2 separate regions of the Homo sapiens genome follow, and region 2 is linked to region 1. The links come from fine-mapping of genetic effects on gene expression. A gene starts in region 1. The other region holds a variant in brackets. All regions are shown on one strand. Distances are between the middles of the regions. Region 1 holds the start of WDR81 (WD repeat domain 81). Region 2 overlaps SERPINF2 (serpin family F member 2).

What was found. PIP is the estimated chance that this variant, and not a neighbour inherited with it, causes the effect. A credible set is the group of variants that fine-mapping cannot tell apart.
Region 2: its variant is the best candidate, but not a certain one, in a credible set for the expression of WDR81 in monocytes (BLUEPRINT, PIP 0.80).

Annotation. Positions count from the first base shown.
Region 1 is chr17:1,723,494-1,726,388 of GRCh38, forward strand. WDR81 (WD repeat domain 81) reads left to right here and starts at 1,211. Exons shown (of 10, transcript NM_001163809.2): 1 at 1,211-2,895. The coding sequence starts at 1,467. RefSeq lists an enhancer at 774-1,274.
Region 2 is chr17:1,752,919-1,755,813 of GRCh38, forward strand. It overlaps SERPINF2 (serpin family F member 2), which reads left to right. Exons shown (of 10, transcript NM_000934.4): 10 at 1,204-2,347. The coding sequence ends at 1,616. Among named protein-coding and RNA genes, the nearest start is that of SERPINF1, 7.7 kb to the right of the region's middle. The variant G/A (reference allele first, on the strand shown) is at 1,441.

The DNA.
Region 1 (2,895 bases):
TTTATTCTTTTTGACGGAGTCTCGCTCTGTTGCCCAGGTTGGAGTACAGTGGCGCCATCTCGGCTCACTGCAAGCTCTGCCTCCTGGGTTCATGCCATTCTCCTGCCTCAGCTTCCCAAGTAGCTGGGACTACAGGCGCCCCCCACCACGGCCAGGTAATTTTTTGTGTTTTTAGTAGAGACGGGGTTTCACCGTGTTAGCCAGGATGGTCTCGATCTCCTGACCTCGTGATCCAGCTGCCTCAGCCTCCCAAAGTGCTGGGATTACAGGCGTGAGCCACTGCACCCGGCCAGTTTTGTTTTTTAAAAAGCCGTGAGAGGGCTGTCAGGAGGCAGTGCTCCTGGGCAGAAAGAAGGCTGGCACCAGTTTCTAAGTCTCCATTCCGCCAGGCGGACAAGCCTCTCTGGCGGTTGTTGGTTATCACTTGTAAAATATAAACAGTAATAACTGTCCTCCCTACCTCACAGAGTGTGTTGCGAGGGCCAAATGGAATGTGACTGTTGAAGTACTTAGGAAAGTTAAAAAGCTCCTTCCTATGGAAGGTGGCATGGAGGCGCCGGGGGGATTCCATGTCAAAAGTCCCAGTTCTGGCCGGGCGCGGTGGCTCACGCCTGTCATCCCAGCACCTTGGGAGGCCGAGACGGGTGGATCACGAGGCCAGGAGTTCGAGATCAGCCTGGCCAACAAGGCGAAACCCCATCTCTACTAAAAAATACAAAAATTAGCCGGGCGTGGTGGCGCGCTCCTGACGTCCCAGCTACTCGGGAGGCCGAGGCAAGAGAATCGCTTGAACCCGGGAGGCAGAGGTTGCGGTGAGCCGAGATCGCGCCACTGCACTCCAGCCTGGGCGACAGAGCAAGACTCCGTCTCAAAAATAGACACAACAGAAGTCCCAGTTCTGCCCCTGGTTGTGCGGTCCGCACTTAACTAAGAGGCTGGCATCTCTGGGAACAGCCTCCGGGACCCGCGCGCTGGTGCGTGCTGGAGGGAGTAGGGAGGGGTGGGGCGGTAGGCATCGCCCTCCGCCGGGCCCGGCTGGAGCTGGCTGGAGACCCTTTCAGCCCCGGGAGGAAGCGGAGCCCAGACCGAGCCAGAGCGGAGCAGCGGGAGGGAGGGCGGGGAGGCCGCCGGGCAGGAAGCGGGGTCCCGCCCGGGCCTCTGGAGCCACGTGCGCTTGTTTCCGTGCTGGGGCGATCACGTGACCCGCGTCAGCTGACCCGTCACGGTGGAGCCCGGTGCTCGCGCCCGGCAGCCTCTGCCCCGCCGCGCCCGGAGCGCAGGACCCGCGGAGGGGTAAGCGCGCCCCCCGTCCGCCTCTTCGCCGCCGCCGGCTTCCTGCGGCCGCCTCCGCCCCAGCCCCTGTCCCGCGCCCATCCCAGCCCCGCCGGCCTGGCACCCCGGAAGCCGTCGCCAGCAGGGCCGTGGCTGGGCTCAGCCCCGCGCTGCCCCCGGGCGGCCTGGAGGAGATGGCCCAGGGCAGCGGGGGGCGGGAAGGCGCTCTCAGAACCCCGGCCGGGGGCTGGCATTCCCCGCCAAGCCCAGACATGCAGGAGCTGCTCCGGAGCGTGGAGAGGGACCTGAGCATCGATCCCAGGCAGCTGGCTCCGGCCCCGGGGGGCACCCACGTGGTGGCCCTAGTGCCTGCGCGCTGGCTGGCCAGCCTCCGCGATCGCCGGCTGCCCCTGGGACCCTGTCCCCGCGCAGAGGGCCTGGGAGAAGCGGAAGTCAGGACTCTCCTGCAGCGCTCTGTGCAAAGGCTGCCTGCCGGCTGGACGCGCGTGGAGGTGCATGGGCTGCGGAAGCGGAGACTGTCCTACCCTCTGGGCGGGGGCCTGCCCTTTGAGGACGGGTCCTGCGGCCCTGAGACCCTCACTCGCTTCATGCAGGAGGTTGCCGCCCAGAATTATCGCAACCTGTGGCGCCATGCATACCACACTTACGGCCAGCCGTACAGTCACAGCCCTGCCCCCTCAGCTGTCCCTGCCTTGGACTCAGTACGGCAGGCTCTGCAGAGGGTCTATGGTTGCTCCTTCCTGCCAGTGGGTGAAACTACCCAATGCCCTTCATATGCCAGAGAAGGCCCCTGCCCCCCTCGGGGCAGCCCTGCTTGCCCTAGTCTTTTACGGGCTGAGGCCTTGCTGGAGTCGCCGGAGATGCTGTATGTGGTACACCCTTACGTACAGTTCTCCCTACATGACGTGGTCACCTTCAGCCCTGCCAAGCTGACCAACAGCCAGGCCAAGGTGCTGTTCATTCTCTTCCGCGTGCTGAGGGCTATGGACGCCTGTCACCGCCAGGGGCTGGCGTGTGGGGCCCTGTCTTTGTATCACATCGCAGTGGATGAGAAGCTTTGCAGCGAGCTGCGACTGGACCTGAGTGCTTATGAGAGGCCCGAGGAGGACGAGAATGAGGAGGCCCCTGTGGCAAGGGATGAGGCGGGCATTGTGTCTCAAGAGGAGCAGGGAGGGCAACCTGGGCAACCCACTGGCCAGGAGGAACTTCGGAGCCTCGTGCTAGATTGGGTCCACGGCCGCATCAGCAACTTCCACTACCTCATGCAGCTGAATCGGTTGGCAGGTCGGCGGCAGGGGGACCCCAACTACCACCCCGTGCTGCCCTGGGTGGTGGACTTCACTACGCCCCATGGGCGCTTCCGAGACCTGCGCAAGTCCAAGTTCCGCCTCAACAAGGGGGATAAGCAACTGGACTTCACGTATGAGATGACACGGCAGGCATTCGTAGCAGGCGGGGCGGGCGGCGGGGAACCCCCTCATGTTCCCCACCACATCTCAGACGTGCTCTCCGACATCACGTACTATGTGTACAAGGCTCGGCGCACGCCTCGGTCGGTGCTCTGCGGACACGTCCGCGCGCAGTGGGAGCCCCATGAGTATC
Region 2 (2,895 bases), 29 kb after region 1:
GCGGGGAGAGGGTTGAATATGAGCCCCCAGACCCTCTGTCCTAGAGGAAGTTGGGGTGGCCCGGGGAATGGGGCTCTGCTTTGCTGCCCAAGACCTCGCATTGCAAGGAGAGTCTGGGTAGAGAGCCTGGGATGGCATGTGAGCCTCGCTGGCTTCCCTGGAAGGGGAAGGAGGAGAAGCTGGGGTGTCACACTGTTAAAGAAATGCTGGGTGGAGTGGCTCATGCCTGTAATCCCAGCACGTTGGGAAGCTGAAGTGGGTGGATTGCTTGAGCCCGGGAGTCCGACACCAGCCTGTGCAACACATTGAAACTCCGTCCCTACAAAAAATACAAAAATTAGCCAGGTGTGGTGCATGCTACTGGGGAGGTTGAGGTGGGAGGCCCTCTTGACCCCAGGTGGCTGAGGCTGCAGTGAGCCATAATTGTGCCACTGCACTCCAGCCTCAGCAAAAGAACTAAGACCTTGTCTCAAAAATAAAAATAAAGGCCGGGCATGGTGGCTCACGTCTGTAATCCTAGCACTTTGGGAGGCCAAAGAGGGTGGATCACCTGAGGTCATGAGTTTGAGACCAGCCTGGCCAACATGGCCAAACCCGTCTCCACTAAAAATACAAAAATTAGCCGGGCGTGGTGGCGCATGCCCATAATCCCAGCTACTTGGGAGGCTGAGGCAGGAGAATTGCTTGAACCTGGGAGGAGGAGGTTGCAGTGAGCCGAGATCACGCCACTGTACTCCAGCCTGGATGACAGAGTGAGACTCCATCTCAAAAAAAAATTATAATAACTAAAATAAATAAATAAAGCATCTATCCTTCAGCCATTTGCTAAGCAGCTGCTGTATTCCAGGCACTGTACCAGGTACCGGGAGCCCACCATGTACAAACAGCTGAGTCTAATGGGGTGGGCAGACGAGCAATCACATACTTACTACAGCATAAGCGATAAGACAGAGAGGGCTTCTCTCCAGCTCACCTGGGAGAACACTGAAAATGTACCTTGGTTGGACTTTAGAGCTGGGGATCAGGGAAGGCTTCCTGGAGGAGGTGGTGTTTAAGCTGAGTCTTGGAAACCGGATAGGAATGAAGCAGGTATCTGTGAGTTCAAGCTGTTCCCTGGCCAGGATCTCAGACACCCTCCCAAGCAGCTCCAGGAGCCTGTGAGGCCAAGGGCAGCTCTGACCAGCCATCTCTGGCCCTGGGCAGGCCTGCAGGAGTTGTTCCAGGCCCCAGACCTGCGTGGGATCTCCGAGCAGAGCCTGGTGGTGTCCGGCGTGCAGCATCAGTCCACCCTGGAGCTCAGCGAGGTCGGCGTGGAGGCGGCGGCGGCCACCAGCATTGCCATGTCCCGCATGTCCCTGTCCTCCTTCAGCGTGAACCGCCCCTTCCTCTTCTTCATCTTCGAGGACACCACAGGCCTTCCCCTCTTCGTGGGCAGCGTGA[G/A]GAACCCCAACCCCAGTGCACCGCGGGAGCTCAAGGAACAGCAGGATTCCCCGGGCAACAAGGACTTCCTCCAGAGCCTGAAAGGCTTCCCCCGCGGAGACAAGCTTTTCGGCCCTGACTTAAAACTTGTGCCCCCCATGGAGGAGGATTACCCCCAGTTTGGCAGCCCCAAGTGAGGGGCCGTGGCTGTGGCATCCAGAGTCCCTGCCTGGACCAGCCTCTCCACTCATGTGACTCTTTCCAACCGGCTTTGTGGCACTGGGGCAGGGGCCGGGGGCAGTCTGAGAGAGGCCATTCTTTCCCAACACCTCTTGGGGAGTTTAGGGTGGGGGGGGGGCGCGGCTGGGAGGAGGGCAGGCATCGGGGAGCCGGGAGCCTGACCCTCATCTTTCTTCCAAACAGGCTCAGAGGGTGTCCTGCACCGGGGCCTGGGCAGGAGGGAGGTGCTTCTAGTTCTGCCAGGAGACAGGTTAGCTGCTCCCCACGTCAGCTGGGACACCCCGACTTTTGTTTACCAGAGAAAAAGGGAGGGGGAGAGGGCTGCCTTTGGACTTGTCCCGGGACACCTAGGCTAGGGTGGGGAGAGACGGGCCCTGGTGGTGGCTCGGGAGGCGAAGCGTTGTCCTCAGCCCCGCGTGGAACTCGTGTCTGGCACAGCCTGGCTGTGGCCTAACCTGCCGAGAGTCCATCAGCCTCCATCCTACCCCCTGTGCCTTGTCACGCCAGACTTCCCACGGCTCCTCGAGATCCCAACACTGCCAGCATTTCCCTTCCTTCCTCTCCTGTCTCCCTCCTCTGCCCGGGAGCTCAGGAACCGAGGCAGGGAAGGATCCCATGAGCTCCTTAAGGCTCTTTTGTAAGGTTTTTGTAGTGATTTTTATGCCACCTGAATAAAGAATGAATGGGCCTGGCTGGTTTGATGTCACCGTTCTGGGCATGGGTGGGGACAAGTGAGGATGGTGGGGAAGGCAGGGAGGCGGCCGCAGGGTGGACTGTGCTGAGGAACCCTGGGCCCAGCAGGGGTGGCAGCCCGCGCAGTGCCACGTTTGGCCTCTGGCCGCTCGCCAGGCATCCTCCACCCCGTGGTCCCCTCTGACCTCGCCAGCCCTCCCCCGGGACACCTCCACGCCAGCCTGGCTCTGCTCCTGGCTTCTTCTTCTCTCTATGCCTCAGGCAGCCGGCAACAGGGCGGCTCAGAACAGCGCCAGCCTCCTGGTTTGGGAGAAGAACTGGCAATTAGGGAGTTTGTGGAGCTTCTAATTACACACCAGCCCCTCTGCCAGGAGCTGGTGCCCGCCAGCCGGGGGCAGGCTGCCGGGAGTACCCAGCTCCAGCTGGAGACAGTCAGTGCCTGAGGATTTGGGGGAAGCAGGTGGGGAAACCTTGGCACAGGGCTGACACCTTCCTCTGTGCCAGAGCCCAGGAGCTGGGGCAGCGTGGGTGACCATGTGGGTG